2 linked regions of the Homo sapiens genome follow. The protein of the gene in region 1 interacts with the protein of each later gene in a pairwise test. Each region holds a gene or a part of one and is shown on either strand. Other genes may lie near its edges. The genes, in order: HAVCR2 and CEACAM1.

What was found.
Region 2: the proteins of HAVCR2 (region 1) and CEACAM1 interact in binary tests that used the Homo sapiens proteins (3 or more experiments, as listed by UniProt).

What each region holds. Positions count from the first base shown.
Region 1 is NC_000005.10:157,091,472-157,099,492, reverse strand, and holds part of HAVCR2 (hepatitis A virus cellular receptor 2 precursor), read left to right. Parts: intron 1-591; coding exon 592-635; intron 636-4,033; coding exon 4,034-4,187; intron 4,188-8,021. UniProt on the Homo sapiens protein: Cell surface receptor implicated in modulating innate and adaptive immune responses. Generally accepted to have an inhibiting function.
Region 2 is NC_000019.10:42,510,871-42,518,891, forward strand, and holds part of CEACAM1 (cell adhesion molecule CEACAM1 isoform 1 precursor), read right to left. Parts: intron 4,234-8,021; coding exon of another isoform or gene 4,141-4,233; intron 1,610-4,140; coding exon 1,480-1,609; intron 759-1,479; coding exon 706-758; intron 51-705; coding exon 19-50; intron 1-18.

The sequences.
Region 1 (8,021 bases):
ATCACCTGAGGTCAGGAGTTCACAACCAGCCTGGTCAACATGGCCTCGTCTCTACTAAAAATACAAAAATTAGCTGGGCGTGGTGGTGCATGCATGTAGTCCCAGCTACTTGGGAGGATGAGGGATGAGAATTGCTTGAACCAGGGAGGCCGAGGTTGCGGTGAGCTGAGATTATGCCACTGCACTCCAGCCTGGGTGACAGAGTGAAATTCTGTGTCTAAATAAATAAATAAATAAATAATGCCTGAGTCTTATCAATATTGCTAGATGTTTGTAGAACTCATTAGGGTCCTGTGAAAAAAACAAAGCACATATTTAATGTAGGACTTCCTGGCAGAAGTCTCTATTTCATAAAACAGTACGGTTCATTATCTAGATGAAAAAATGTGGCCATCCTAAAGTTGATTCCTGGGTGTTCAGTAAATTTTGTCTGTCTCTCCATTAATTATTGTGACAAGTACGGAGTAGAATTCATTTCAAATAGGATTATAGGCATCATTAAGATTTTTTAAAAACTTAGATAAAAGAAAACGTTCTTAACTATACTATTGGCTATTTTTCCTCTCTCTCTCTCTCTCTCTCTTTTTATAGCAGAGACACAGACACTGGGGAGCCTCCCTGATATAAATCTAACAGTAAGTAACTTTTTTTGTGAGCTATGTTGTACTCAACTTGGAGGGGAAATCATGGCTTTAGACTTCCTTCATGCCCACCTTGTCCTTGGGGTAAAAAGCCTTAAGTTCCCTTAGCTTCAGATTCCTGGGCTGTAACATGTTGATGATGACAGTTCTAACCTCATAGGCCTGCTGTAATGAAGGACTGACATGATGTGTGTAAAGTGCCTGGCATATAGTAAGAGCTTGAAAACCACAAAGAAGAAACATTAGCATTTTGTCCCTCTTATTCTTCAATTTCACAACTGTCTACCCTGTGGAAGGTTCAAAGATTCTTCATCTCCCTAGAATACCATTCTTCTTGCTTCCATTGCAATCCTAATGGGAAAGAGTATTTAAATTTATCTCTTTAAATATGGCAAGACACCAGTCAGGAATATTCAAAGTGAAGAGGTTTTTTTTTTTTTTTTTTAGACAGAATTTCGCTCTTGTTGCCCAGGCTGGAGTGCAAGGGTGTGATCCTGGCTCACCTCAACCTCCGCCTCCCGGGTTCAAGCGATTCTCCTGCCTCAGCCTTCCGAGTAGCTGGGATTACAGGCATGAGCCACCACACCCGGCTAATTTTTTTATTTTTAGTAGAGACGGAGTTTCACCACATTGGCCAGGCTGATCTTGAACTCCTGACCTCAGGTGATCCACCTGCCTCGGCCTCCCAAAGTGCTGAGATTGCAGGCGTGAGCCATGGCACCTGGCCTAATTTTGTATTTTTAGTAGAGACAGGGTTTCTCCATGTTGGTCAGGCTGGTCTTGAACTCCTGACCTCAGGTGATCCGCCCAACTTGGCCTCCCAAAGTGCTGGGATTACAGGCATGAGCCATGGTGCCCAGCCAGTTTTATGTATTTAACTATAAATAAAGCCATACCTTAATAAACCTCAATTTTACTGTCCCTGCTACCTTCTCAGAATAAAAGAAAAACTGGCTGGGCGCAGTGACTCACGTCTGTAATCCCAGCACTTTGGGAGGCTAAGTAGGGTGGATCACCTGTCAGGGGTTTGAGACCAGCCTGGTCAACATGGTGAAACCCCATCTCTACTAAAAATACAAAAAATTAGCCAGGTATGGTGGTGTGTGCCTGTGTAGTCTCAGCTACTCAGGAGGCTGAGACAGGAGAATCGCTTGAATCCAGGAGGTGGAGGTTGCAGTGAGCTGAGGTCGCGCCACTGCACACCAGCCTGGGCAACAAGAGCGAAATTCCCTCATAAAAGAAAAACCACTAGAAGGCAAGCTTGCAGCAATGACTTAAAAATTCTTTGAGGAGGCCGGGCACAGTGTCTCATGCCTGTAATCCCAGCACTTTAGGAGGCCAAGGTGGAAGGAATGCTTGAGACCAGGAGTTTGAGACTAGCCTGGGCCACATAGTGACACCCTGTCTCTACAAAAAATATTTTTTAAAATTTGGCCAGGCATGGTGCTGCAAACCTGTAGTTCCAGCTACTTGGGAGGCTGAGGCAGGAGGATCACTTGAGCCCAGTAGGTTGAGGCTGCATTGAGCTGTGATCATGCCCCTGCACTCCATCCTAGGTGACAGGGCAAGGCCTTGTCTCAAAAAAAAAAAAAAAAAAAAAATTACTTGAGGGCATATCCAGGAGCCCACATTTATTTGACTCAGTTTCTTGCTTGTGTATTCACAACTGATGCTCAGCATCTTGTATTTGCTCCTTCTCTCTTTGCAATCAAACAGTGCTTTTTAAGGACCTGTATGTGCCCACAATGCTTAATGCACAATATCTTGCATATAGGACTCCTGTTATTGCAGGAGTAATGTGTATTGAATCAATTTGTAAATGTATATTGAATAAATGGAAGATTTAACTTCCTTAAATTCATTGTTTTAAAAATGCTTATAATTATATGTGTGTGTGTGTGTGTGTGTGTGTGTGTGTGTGTGTTTTGTATAAATGGGGTCTCAATATTATTAGGCTGGTCCCTAACTCCTGGTCTCAAGTGATCCTCCCATCTCAGCTTCCCAAAGTGCTGGGATTATAGGTGTGAGCCTGGCCTATAATTATTATTTATTTATTAATTTATTATTTATTTTTGAGATGGAGTTTTGCTCTTGTCGCCCAGGCTGGAGTACAATGGCACAACCTTGGCTCACTGCAACCTCTGCCTCCTGGGTTCAAGCGATTGTCCTGCCTCAGCCTCCCAAATAGCTGGGACTATAGGTGCCCGCCACCACACCTGGCTAATTTTTGTATTTTTAGTAGAGATGGGGTTTCACCATGTTGGCCAGGCTGGTCTTGAACTCCTGACCTCGTGATCTGCCTGCCTTGGCCTCCCAAAGTGCTGGGACTACAGGCGTGAGCCACCGCACCTGGCCTAATCATTGTTTTTAAAGAGAGAAAAAGAGAGAACCCATAGACTGAAATTTTAGAAACAGGATTTATTTTGTGTGGCTCTCAGTTATCAGAAAATCAAGTTAACTAGAGCAATAGCAATAATAGCTACGATTGATTGAACATTTATTATGTACCAGGCCCTGTACTAAGCATTTTATATTTTCTCTCACTTAGTTTTCCTGATAACTCTACAGGATTACTCAGCCCTTAGTGGCAGAGCTGGGAATTTTTTTTTTTTTTTTTTTTTTGAGATGGAGTCTCGCTCTGTTGCCCAGGTTGGCGTGCAGTGGCATGATCTCAACTCGAGTACTCCAGTCTTTGCCTCCTGGGTTTAAGTGATTCTCCTGCCTCAGCCTCCCCACTAGCTAGGATTACAGGCATGTGTTACCACGCCTGGCTAAGTTTTGTATTTTTAGTAGAGACGGGGTTTCACCATGTTGTCCAGGCTGGTCTCAAACTCCTGATGTCAGGTGATCCGCCTGCCTAGGCCTCCCAAAGTGCTGGGATTACAGGCATTAGCCACCGCGCCCGGCCTCAGAGCTGGGATTTGAATCCACGACCGTCTGGCTGTAAAGTCTTGGCTATTGAATCACTGTCTTTTTGTGAAAAATAGACGTTTCATAGCAAGACACTAAATGTAAACTACTCTAAAACTCTCTGGGGAATCTTAGGGGATCTTGAACCAACAAGACTCCACTCTAAAGCCAATTTTTGCAGGGGCAGGGAAAGGGTCTTAAGAGCTCCTTCTCTCTTTTTTTTTTTTTTTTTTTAAGAGCTCCTTCTCTACCCACAACACAGAAGGGCACATTTTGTTTCCTTGCTAACTCCAAAGGTTAAGGGAGACCCTTTCTTGGGTTGGCTTGAGTGTTGGCTACAAGGTGACAGATCAAAGGTGATTTGAAGGACTCAGCCATCCTGTGATGTTGTAAAAGGGATGGTCCAATTCACAAATCTTGAAGCTGATTACACAAGCGATTTCTAGCTGTTTTCTGCTTAAATCCTGTTTGTGTTTCCATAGCAAATATCCACATTGGCCAATGAGTTACGGGACTCTAGATTGGCCAATGACTTACGGGACTCTGGAGCAACCATCAGAATAGGCATCTACATCGGAGCAGGGATCTGTGCTGGGCTGGCTCTGGCTCTTATCTTCGGCGCTTTAATTTTCAAATGTAAGTGTTTTTGTTTCTCTCTCCCTCTGATAACAAATTCTTCAGTGAGAACCAGTAAAAACCTAGATAGAAATGCAAATTCATGTTTATACCCAAAGATGATTAGACTAAATACCCTTTTGTCCATCCAAATCCTAACAATAATGGCTAATTTTTATTTAATATTTATTGTGTGTCAGGCAGCCACTGCGTTAAATGTTTTACATACATTTTATCATCATTACTGTCTTATGAGATAAGGAATAGTACCATCCCCATTTTACAGTGAAGGGAAGTCAAGCTTAGAGTAAGCTGCCTTCCCGAGGTTTCAACATCAGTACCTGGCAGAACCGGAAATCAAATCCAGGCAGGCTGATTCCAGTAAACTAATTTCTTTAATTCATGAATATGTCTAGGTTTGTTACGAAACACAACAACAAAAAACACTTCCTTCTGTGCACTTTTCTGTTATTGGTTTCTCAGGCATACCTCTCTGGCAGTAGACTGCAAGTCCCTTTAACACTGGGTCGTGACTGGGGTTAGAGAATGTTTTCCTCCATCATGGTACTTAGCACATAGCTTTTTCTAAGTTACTTATCCCTTTTTTTTTTTTAAACTAGCAAACAAACAAAAACAAAAAAACAGGCCCGGCGCAGTGGCTCACGCCTGTAATCCCAGCACTTTGGGAGGCTGAGGGGGGTGGATCATTTGAGGTCAGGAGTTCGAGACCAGCTTGGCCAACATGGTGAGACCCCATCTCTACTAAAAATACAAAATTAGCCGGGTGTGGTGGCGCATGCCTGTAATCCCAGCTACTCAGGAGGCTGAGGCAGAGGAATCACTCAAACCTGGTAGGTGGAGGTTACAGTGAGCTCAGATCATGCCACTGCACTCCAGCCTGGGTGACAGAGTGAGACTGTCTTAAAAAAAAAAGTAATAAAATATAAATAAATAAGCAAATAAATAAATAAATAAATACAATGGCCAGGTGCAGTGGCTCATGCCTGTATTTTCAACACTTTCGGAAGCTGAGGTGAGAGGATCAGTTGAGCCCAGGAGTTTGAGACCAAGATCAGCCTGGGCAGCAAAGCAGGATCCTGCCTCTACAACGTAATAATAATAATAATGAGCTGGGCATGGTGGCACACACCTGTAGTCCCATCTACTCAGGAGGCTGAGGTGGGAGGATCACTTGAGCTCAGGAGGCTGCAGTGAGCGGTGATTGCATCATTGCACTCCACCCTGGGCAACAGAATAAGACAGTCTCCAAAAAAAAAAAAAAAAAGAAGTGTGTTGAAGTTGATGAATTTTGATGGAGAATTACAGTAGGAAGCCATCATCACAATCAAGATCTAAATACTTCCAGTACCCCCAAAACCTCGCACACTTTTGTTTTTTTGGAGATGGACGCTGGAGTGCAGTGGCACGATCTCAGCTCACTGTAACCTCTGCCTCCCGGGTTCAAGTGTTTCTCCTGACTCAGCTTCCAGAGTAGCTGGGACTACAGGCATGTACCACCACGCCTGGCTAATTTTTATATTTTTAGTAGAGACAGGGTTTCACCATGTTGGGCAAGATGTTCTTGATCTCCTGACCTTGTGATCCGTCCACCTCGACCTCCCAATGTTTTGGGATTACAGGCGTGAGCCACTGTGCCTGGCCACTCACACACTTTTATAATTGTGTCTATTTTATTTTCTTTTAGGGCAGAAACCAAGTCCTTATGCCCCAGAGCGTAATATGACATAGCAGCCTTTCTTACTAATACACAAACAGGGACTGTGTGTGTAGAGTGAGCAATCACCTCAGATTAGCTCAAGACTAAAGGGTGTTCCTAAGATATATGGGACTTCTAGGGCTAAAACTGGAACAGTCCAAGAAAAACATGAGTTGGTCCCCCCACTAACTGTGGACTGAAGCTGCCAAGTGCTTTACGTGCATTAAATTCTCGTAACTACCCTATGAGATAGGTACTAATATGTTTCTAATGGAGAATCAGCATGCTAAAAGGTTAGGTCACTTGCCTGCATTTACACAGTTAATTGATAGATACTGGATTTGAAACCAGGACTGTCCTGCTCCTCATCTTTATGGTTTCTGCGATTATGGTTAAATGGATTATTCAGAAAAAGAAACTACCCCACCCACACTTACCTGGGTTTATTCAGAGATAGCCATGGAATTTTTGAATTGATCACATGAATATATATATATGTATATATATGTATACACATATATATATATATTTATTATTATTGGGACAGAGTCTTACTCTGTCACCTGGGAGCTGGACTACAGTGGTGTGATCTTGGCTCACTTCAACCTCTGCCTCCTGGGTTCAAGCAATTCTTGTGCCTCAGCCTCCCAAGTAGCTGAGATTACAGGCATATGCCACCACACCTGGCTAGTTTTTTTTTTTTTTTTTTTTTTTTTTTTTTTTTTTTTTTTGGTAGAGACAGGGTTTTGCCATGTTGCCCAGAAAATTGGTCTCAATCTCCTGAGCTCAGGTGATCCTCCTACTTCAGCCTCCCAAAGTGCTGGGATTACAGGCGTGATGAATATATACATATTTAAAAATAGAGGCTGAGCACGGTGGCTTACGCCTGTAATCCTAGCACTTTGGGAGGCCGAGGTGAGTGGATAACCTGAGGCTGGGAGTTTGAGACCAGCCTGACCAACGTGGAGAAACCTCATCTCTACTAAAAATACAAAATTAGCCGGGCATGGGGGCACATGCCTATAATTCCAGCTACTCGGGAAGCTGAGGTGGGAGAATCACTTGAGCCCAGGAGGCGGAGGTTGCAGTGAGCTGAGATCGTGCCATTGCACTCCAGCCTGGGCAACAAGAGTGAAACTCCATCTCAAAAAATAAATAAAATAAAATAAAATAAAAATAGAAATGAGATCTTGCTATGTTGCTCAAGCTGGTCTCAAACTCCTGGGCTTAAATAATCCTCCCACCTCAGCCTCCCAAAATGTTGGGATTATAGGCATGAGTCATTGCACTTAGCCTCACTTGAGTATTTCCAAAACAGACTAGGGATTGTTAAGGAGCACTGATAACACTCACTACTTTTTTGACTTCTGCCATGGCTCAAAGTAAAACTTTGAGCTTTACTATTATATATATTAGAGACCACTTTATATATATATGTGTGTGTGTATATATATATATATATATATATATAATATGACCATAATTTATACATATTAGCACTTATTCTAGTTTGTATAAAGAGTGATGGGATCTAGAGGAAATCTGATGCTTTGTACACACACATATATGCCACTCCAAAAAAACATGGCTACTGAGAAGTACAGATAAGAAAGGCCTGTTTCATTTCCAATCTTTTCCCTGGAAGTTGCTGGAGAAAATATTAAAATCAAGGTGACAGCTTTTTAAGTCATGACCTCACAAAAACAAACTGACACTCAATAATGCCCCACAATCTTCCATCTTTCTAGTGTACTCTCTGAGATGACCATCCATACCTCACTGCTGCTCAAAACTTCTTTGCCCCTCTCCTAACTGATGAAATATGAAAGGGCTTTTTAATCTCCATTGCCTAGGCCAAGACTTCATCCTTCTTTTTATCCCTTTCTTCTGAGTCATCTCTCTCCTTTTCTGTTTATGCTATTTTCATTAGCAGAATATATGTTCTAGTCCATGCATTCCTCTCCAGCTAGTCCCATTTCTCAACTCGTTCTCACAGCCATATTTTTCAAAGGAGTTGTCTCTACTTTTCACCCATCTACACTCCTTGACCCACCATCATCTAGTTTCTGCTCCAAAGCACAACGGAAATGGTCAAGCTCACCACTGACCTTCAGTTTTCTAAATTAAATATTAACAGA
Region 2 (8,021 bases), on another chromosome or scaffold:
AAAACCGGCTATGCTTACCTTGTTAGGTGGGTCATTGGAGTGGTCCTGAGCTGGAGAAGCAAAAGAAGAGTTAGCGATCCATGGAAATGCAAAGCTGACTTCAGGTGATTCTAGCTGAAGGAGGTGGCAGTTGGAGGGTGGGGAGTTTAAGGATCAGTTAAGGAATTTACTTCCCTCAGAGTGTATGGTCCAGACCCAGCATGTTAGTACCAGAGAGGGGGCAGGGGCAGAACCACAGGAGGCCACAATCCACTTGTGAAGAGTTCTACCAGTTCACAAGGCCTTGATTTTTGCCCAGATGTGTTTCTCAGCAACATGCTCCAGTGGCAAGGAGGGGCATTGAGACTTGTAGCACCCACAGCACCCACAAGATAAGGAAAGTCTCACCAAGGGAGAGTGCCCACATCCGTAATAGAGGCAGGAGGCGGAAGGAGTAAGGCTGAGGAAATGGCTCCTGGAAACATGGGATCTTCCTCAGGCCTGCCTGGCCTAGGCAGAGTGAGCCTCTCTCCTCAGATGTGTCTCAGGGGACTCCTGTGGCTAGGAAGGGTGGGAAGACCTATGCCACCTTAGGGTTGGGAAATAGAGATCCTTTCTGTGAAAATTCAGAAGGGAGGGAGTGGTTTGGGAATCCAGGATTCCCTGCCAGGGGAGGGCACGTGGTGGAACATACCAGTTCTCACTGGGGTAAGTGGCTTTACTTACTGTGGTTGGAGACTGAGGGTTTGTGCTCTGTGAGATCACGCTGGTCGCTTGCCCTAAATAAATATCAGAAACTGTGACTGCTATTCCCAAGCACAGGATCTTTGTTCCGTAAGTTAGGAAGGACACTGTGAGCAGGTAATTCCTTAGAGTCCTTGATGTTCATACTGCCTTTCTTCTGAGGGCCTCGTTCTTCAGTCTAACTACAATCCCTTCTAGTGTTTACTCTTTTCCTGTTTGCTGGATGTTCACATTTCATTTCATTCTTTATCAGCTGCTTCTGTGCCTACTTCTATCCTTAAAACCTTTCCCATTTTGTTTTCCGGGGTAGATACTTTTTTTTTTTTCTCTATTTATTGTTCAAGAGGACTTTGGTTGTTTTTGCTTTCTCTTAGGTTCTCTTCCTATGCTATTTCTCCCTCCTCTTCCAATGTGGTCAACAGAGCACATGACTTGCTTTCTCCTGCTGCTTCTTTCATTTTTTCATTTGTTTTCCTTCTTAGACCTTGCTTTCCCTGACTAGGGGACAGAGGAACATACTTGAGTCTCTTCCTCTAGATTAGATGGGGATTGGAATACCCATGTCCAAGAGATAATGGGAGACAGGGAGCACGAAGACCAGGGAAGAGGAAACCTGTGGGAATTAGTGCCGAGAAGCAGGAGTTTAGTGGGAGGAGTATGAGATCCAGGCCCAGAGACAGGCAAAGAATTCTTTCCCTCTCCCAAGCATGGCAGTCAGCCTTGGAGGAAACAGAACAAGAGGAAAGGCCATCATACCTGCCGGTCTTCCCGAAATGCAGAAAACATGCCAGGGCTACTGCTATCAGAGCAACCAGGGCCACTACTCCAATCACAATGCCAGCAATGGCCCCAGGTGAGAGGCCATTTTCTTGTGGTAGAGCATTATCTGTCATGGAGAGAAAAGAGGAGAAGAAATGAAAGTGAAATTATTTTACAATGGGGGCTGGGAAACAACTCTCAGAATGAAGTAGTTTCTAATTGTTCCTTCAAGGAATACAGTTTCGTTGTGGGAAGGTTGCTGGAAGGTGATTAGCTAACTATATCCTTGCAATTTTTTTTTTTCAATCACCATGTTTCTTTTTTTCTTTTCTTTTTTTTTTTTGAGACAGAGTCTTGCTCTGTCTCTCAGGCTGGAGTGCAGTAGCATGATCTTGGCTCACTGCAACCTCCGCCTCCCAGGTTCAAGCGATTCTCCTGCCTCAGGCTGGACTACAGGCACGTGCCACCACACCTGGCTAATTTCTGTATTTTTTTAGTAGAGACGGGGTTTCACCATATTGGTCAGACTGGTCTTGAACTCCTGACCTCATGATCCGCCTGCCTCGGCCTCCCAAAGTGCTTGGATTATAGGCGTGAGCCACTGCGCCCAACCCCAGTCACCATGTTTCTAGGTTGATGATCTCTCTTCTGCCAATTCCACCCTGGCTTTTCTGCGCTCAGCCATTTTTAAGGCTTTGAAATATGAGAAAGGCTGATTGCTATTTTGTATGTGATTAGAACTTTCCACCTTTTTCGTGGTTGCATCTTTTTCTCAGTGTCTCAGTTGTGGCAGTTGGTGCATTCTGAATTCACCACCTCTTTTGCATAGAGAACTGGCTTCCCACAGGCTCCCAGCAGGGGTATGAAAGCTAGCCCAGTTTTGTGTGACTGTTTTATTCTGAAGTGTGAATGGCTGGAGGACTCCCTGTCAGCCTTGCAGAAATGCTCTTAGAACTGCACTGCAGGCCGGGCGCGGTGGCTGACGCCTGTAATCCCAGAACTTTGGGAGGCTGAGGCGGGTGGATCACGAGGTCAGGAGTTCAAGACCAGCCTGGCCAAGATGGTGAAACCCTATCTCTACTAAAAATACAAAATTTAGCTGGGTGCGGTGGCAGGTGCCTATAATCCCAGCTACTTGAGAGGCTGAGGCAGGAGAATCGCTTGAACCCGGGGGGCAGAGGTTTCAGTGAGCCGAGATCACACTACTGCACTCAAGCCTGGGCAACAGAGTGAGACTCTGTCTCAAAAAACAAACAAACAAAAACTGCACTTCAATCTAAAACTTCCTTCCTCTCTTTCTCTTCCACAGGAATCAGATCTGCATCATGGTCTGAGGTTCCTCTCACTCTCGCCTTACTTTCCCTCACAGGCATTTTCCCCAATAAATTATCTCGTATGTTTAATCCCATCTTCACTGTATCTCAGTAGATGGAAACTAACATACCAGGCTTGAGACTTTGCTTTACCTCCTTTTTTCCCCCTTTCCCATATTTGATCATAGCCATGTCCCAGTGGGTTTCTTGTATAATGCTTCTCCCTCCATATATATATATATATATATATATAATATATAAATAATACCTTTTGCATCTATTTCTTCTTCTTCTTTTTTTTTTTTTTTTTTTTTGAGGCAGGTTCTCACTCTATCACCCAGGCTGGAGTGCAGTGGCACAATCATGGCTCATTGTAGCCTCTTGGGATCAAGTGATCCTCCCACCTCAGTCTCCTCAGTAGCTGAGACTATAAGCACATGCCACCACACCTGGCTAATTTTTTTCTTTCTTTTTTTTTTTTTTGAGACCGAGTTTTGCTCTTGTTGCCTAGGCTAGAGTGCAATGGCGTGATCTCGGCTCACTGCAACCTCTGCCTCCCAGGTTCAAGCGATTCTCCTACCTCAGCCTCCTGAATTGCTGGGATTACAGGCATGCGCCACCACGCCTGGCTAATTTTGTATTTTTAGTAGAGACGGGGTTTCTCCATCCTGGTCAGGCTGGTCTTGAACTCCCGACCTCAGGTGACCCGCCTGCCTCAACCTCCCAAAGTGTTGGGATTACAGGCGTGAGCCACCACGCCCACCCACCTGGCTAATTAAAAAAAAATAATTTTTGTAGAGATAGGGTTCCACTATATTGCCTAGGCTGGTCTTGGATTCCTGGGCTCAAGAGATCCTCCAGCCTCGGCCTCCCAAATGTTGGGATTACAGGTGTGAGCCACTGTGTCTAGCCTATTTCTTGTTTATATCTGTTGCAACTATTTGGGGCTTAACCCTCACCAGTCAACTCAGGCTGGTGACTAATGCTATGTTAGCTACTTTTGTGGAGTACTTCCTGTGTGCCAGGCCCTGTGCTGCTAAATGCTTTACATGTATCTTATTTGATCCATAAAATAGTGCTGTCAGGTAGACATTATTTCCATTTTAAACATGAAAAAATGGAAGCTTAGAGTGGTAAAAGGCTTACCTAAAGTCAGATGGCTAGTGAGAGGTGGATCTGAGATTTGACCCTAGGACTACCTGATTTCAAGGCTAATGATAATAGTAGTAGTAATAGCAGCTAACATTTATGAAACATTTCCTCTGTGTGTGGTGTTTTGCTGAAGGTTTATTATTACATTAAATCTTTAAAATAACACTATGGGGCCAGGCGTGGTGGCTCACACCTGTAATCTCAGCACTTTGGGAAACAGATGGGAGGATTGCTTGAGCCCAGGAGTTCGAGTCCAGCCTGGGTAACATGGTGAGATTCTGTCTCTCTGAAAACAAAAATAAAAATAAATTAGCCAGATGTGGTAGTATGTACTACTTAGGAGGCTAAGGTGAGGGAATTGCTTGAGCCCAGGAGGTTGAGGCTGCAGTGAGCTGTGTTTGCACCACTGCACTCCAGTCTGGGTGACAGAGTGACACCCTGTCTCAAAAACAAAACAAAAACCCCAAACCCGTGCAATACTATGGAGCAGGCATTCACAGTGCAATTTTCGGTTGAGGAATCCGAGGCTCAGAGTAGTTAAGAATCTTGTGCAAGAAAGAAATTTATAACTGTAGGCCAGGTACAGTGGTGTATGACTGTAATCCCAGCAATTTGGGAGGCTGAGGCAGGTGTATCACTTGAGCTCAGGAATTTGAGACCAGCTGGGCAAGATGGTGAAACCCTGTCTCTACAAAAAATTACAAAAATTAGCCGGAGGTGGTAGTGCTTGTCTGTAGTTTCAGCTACCCAGGAGGCTGAAGCAGGAGGATTGCTTGAACCCGGGAAGTTGAGGCTGTGGTGAGCCATGATCAGCCTCGGTGACAGAGTGAGAACCTGTCTCAAACCGAAAAAAAAAAGTTGTTCTTCAAAAAAGATCACTATAATTGACAACTGTTAATTAGATTGACTAAGAAAGAAAGAAGATTCAAATTACTAAAGTCAGAAATGAAAGTAAAACATTACTACTAATTCTGCAGAAATAATAAGGATTATAAGAGTACTATGAGTAATTGAATGCCAACAAATTGGATAACCTGGATGAAATGAACAAATTCCTAGAAACACAAAACCTGCCATGATAGAATCATGAATAAATAGAAAATCTGAATAGACCTATAACCAGTAATGAAAATGAGTCGATAAAAGCATTTGACAAAATTCAACATTCTTTCATGCTAAAAAACACTGAAACTAGGAATAGAAGGAAATTCTCAACATAATAAATGCTACATGTGAAAACCCCCAGCTACCATCATAGTCAATGGTGAAAGATTGAAAACTTTTCCTTTAAGATCAAGAACAAGACAAGGATGCCTGCTTTTGCCATTTCTATTCAATGTAGTATTGGAAGACCTAGACAGAACAATTAGGCAAGAAAAAAAAAGCATCTAGATTGGAAAGAAGTAAAATTATACCTGTTTGCAGAATACACTAACTTATATATAGAAAACCCTAGAGATTCCACAAAAAAACTGTTAGAATAATAAATTTAGCAAAGTGGCAGGATACAAAATCCACATGCAAAAATCAGTTGTATTTTTGTATACTAATAACAATTCAAAGGAAAATTAAGAAAAAAATTCTATTTATAAGAGCTTTAAAAATACTTAGAAATAAACTTAACCAAAGAGGTGAAAGATTTGTACCCTGAAAATACAAAACATTGCCAAAAGAAATTAAATAAGACATAAATTGAAAAGACACCCCATTTTCATGGATTAGAAGACTTAATATTGTTAAGATGACAGTACTACCCAAAGTGATCTACAGATTCAGTGCAATCTCTATCAAAATTCCAGTAATATTTTTTGCAGAAATAGAAAAATTCATTCTAAAATTTATATAGACTCTGAAGGGACCATGGATAGCCAAAGCAATCTTGAAAAAGAACAAAGTTGAAGGGCTCACACTTCCTGGTTTCAAAATTTTTTACAAAGCTATGGTAATCATCACACCTGTAATCTTAGCACTTTGGGAGGTGGAGGCGGGTGGATTGCTTGAGCTCAGGAGTTTGAGACCAGCCTTGGCAACATGGTGAAACGCCATCTCTACAAAGAAAAGCAAAAAAACAAAACAAAACAAAAAAACCCAAACAACAACAATAAAACAAACAAACAAAATCCAAAAGCTACAGTAATCAAAACAGTATGGTACTGGCAAAAAGAAATAGAAACCAGTGGAATAAAATATAGAGCCCAGAAAGAAATGTTTGCATACATAGCCAAATGTTTTTTGACAAGGGTGCCAAGATCATTCAGTGGGGAAAGGATAGTCTTTTCAACAAATGGCATTGAAGAAACTGGATATCCATGCAAAAGAATGAAATTGAACCTTTATGTAACACCATATATAAAAATTAATTCAAAATGCATAAAAGACCTAAATGTAAGAGCTAAAACTATAAAGCTCTTGGAAGATAGAGTGAAAACTTTGGAACATTGAATTTGGCAATGATTTCTTGGCTATGACACTAAAAGCATAGGCAACGAAAGAAGAAGTAGAGAAATTGGACTTAATGAAAATTAAAAGCTTTTGTGTATCAAAGCACATTATCACAAAAGTGAAAAGACTTCTTATAGAATGGGAGAAAATATTTGAGAATCATATATCTGATAAGGGATTAATATCCAAAATATATAAAGAACTACTGCAACTCAACCAAAAATCCCCAAACAACCTAATTAAAACATGGGCAAAGGACTTGAATAAACATTTCTCCAAAGAAGATAAATGGCAAATAAGCACATGAAAAGATGCTAAATATTGCTAATCATTAGGGAAGTGCAAATCAAAACTCCAATGATATACCACCTTATAACCATTAGGATGGCCATTATAAAAAACAAAACAAAACCAGAAAGCAACAAATGTTTTTGAAGATGTAGAGAAATTGGAACTCTAGTGCATTGCTGGTGGGAATGTGAAATGGTATAGCCACTGTGGAAAATGGTATGATGGTTCTTCAAAATTAAACAGGATTACCATTTGATCCAGCAATTCCACTTCTGAGTATCTATTTAAAAGAACTGAAAGCAGGGATTTGAACAGATATTTGTATACCCATGTTTGTAATAGCATTATTCATAATAGCCAAAAGGTGGAAGCAACCTAACTGTCCATAGATGGATGAGTGGATAAGCAAAATGTGATGTATCTATCTACACAGCATAATATTATTCAGTCTCCAAAAGGAATGAAATTCTGATACATTCTACAACATAGATGGAGCTTGAAGACATTGTGCTAAATGAAGTAAGCCAGACACAAAAGGACAAATATTGCATGCTTCCATCTGTATGAGAGGTACTTAGAATAGTTAAATACGGGGTGGGCAGAGTGGCTCATTCCTGTAATCCCAGCACTTTGGGAGGCCGAGGCTGAGACCAGGAGATTGAGACCAGCCTGGGCAACACAGTGAAACCCCAACTCTACAAAAAAACTTAAAAACTTAGCCAGGCATGGTGGTGCAACCTGTAGTCCCAGCTACTCTGGAGGCTGAGGTGGCAGGATTGCTTGAACCCAGGGGATTGAGGCGGGAGTGAGCTTTGATCACACCACAGCACTCCAGCCTGGGTGACAGAGTGAGACCCTGTCTCAAAACAACAAAACAAACAAAAAAACCCAACCAACCAAAAAAAACCAACTAAGTATATGTATATTTGATTCAGAGCCTGAGCTCTTTTTTTTTTTTTTTTTTTGAGACAGAGTCTTGCTCTGTTGCCTAGACTGGAGTGCAGTGGCACCATCTCGGCTCACTGAAAGCTCCGCCTCCCAGGTTCACGCCATTCTCCCGCCTCAGCCTCCCGAGTAGCTGGGACTACAGGCGCCCGCCACCATGCCCGGCTAATTTTTTTTTGTATTTTTAGTAGACACGGGGTTTCACCATATTAGCCAGGATGGTCTCGATCTCCTGCCCTCGTGATCCGCCCGCCTTGGCCTCCCAAACTGCTGGGATTACAGGCGTGAGCCACTGTGCCCGGCCTGAGCTGAGCTCTTAACCACTTTGCAATTCTGTTTGCTATAATGGTCTCTTCATTGATATTCTGCCTCCTGTGAGTTTTATCCATTTTGCAC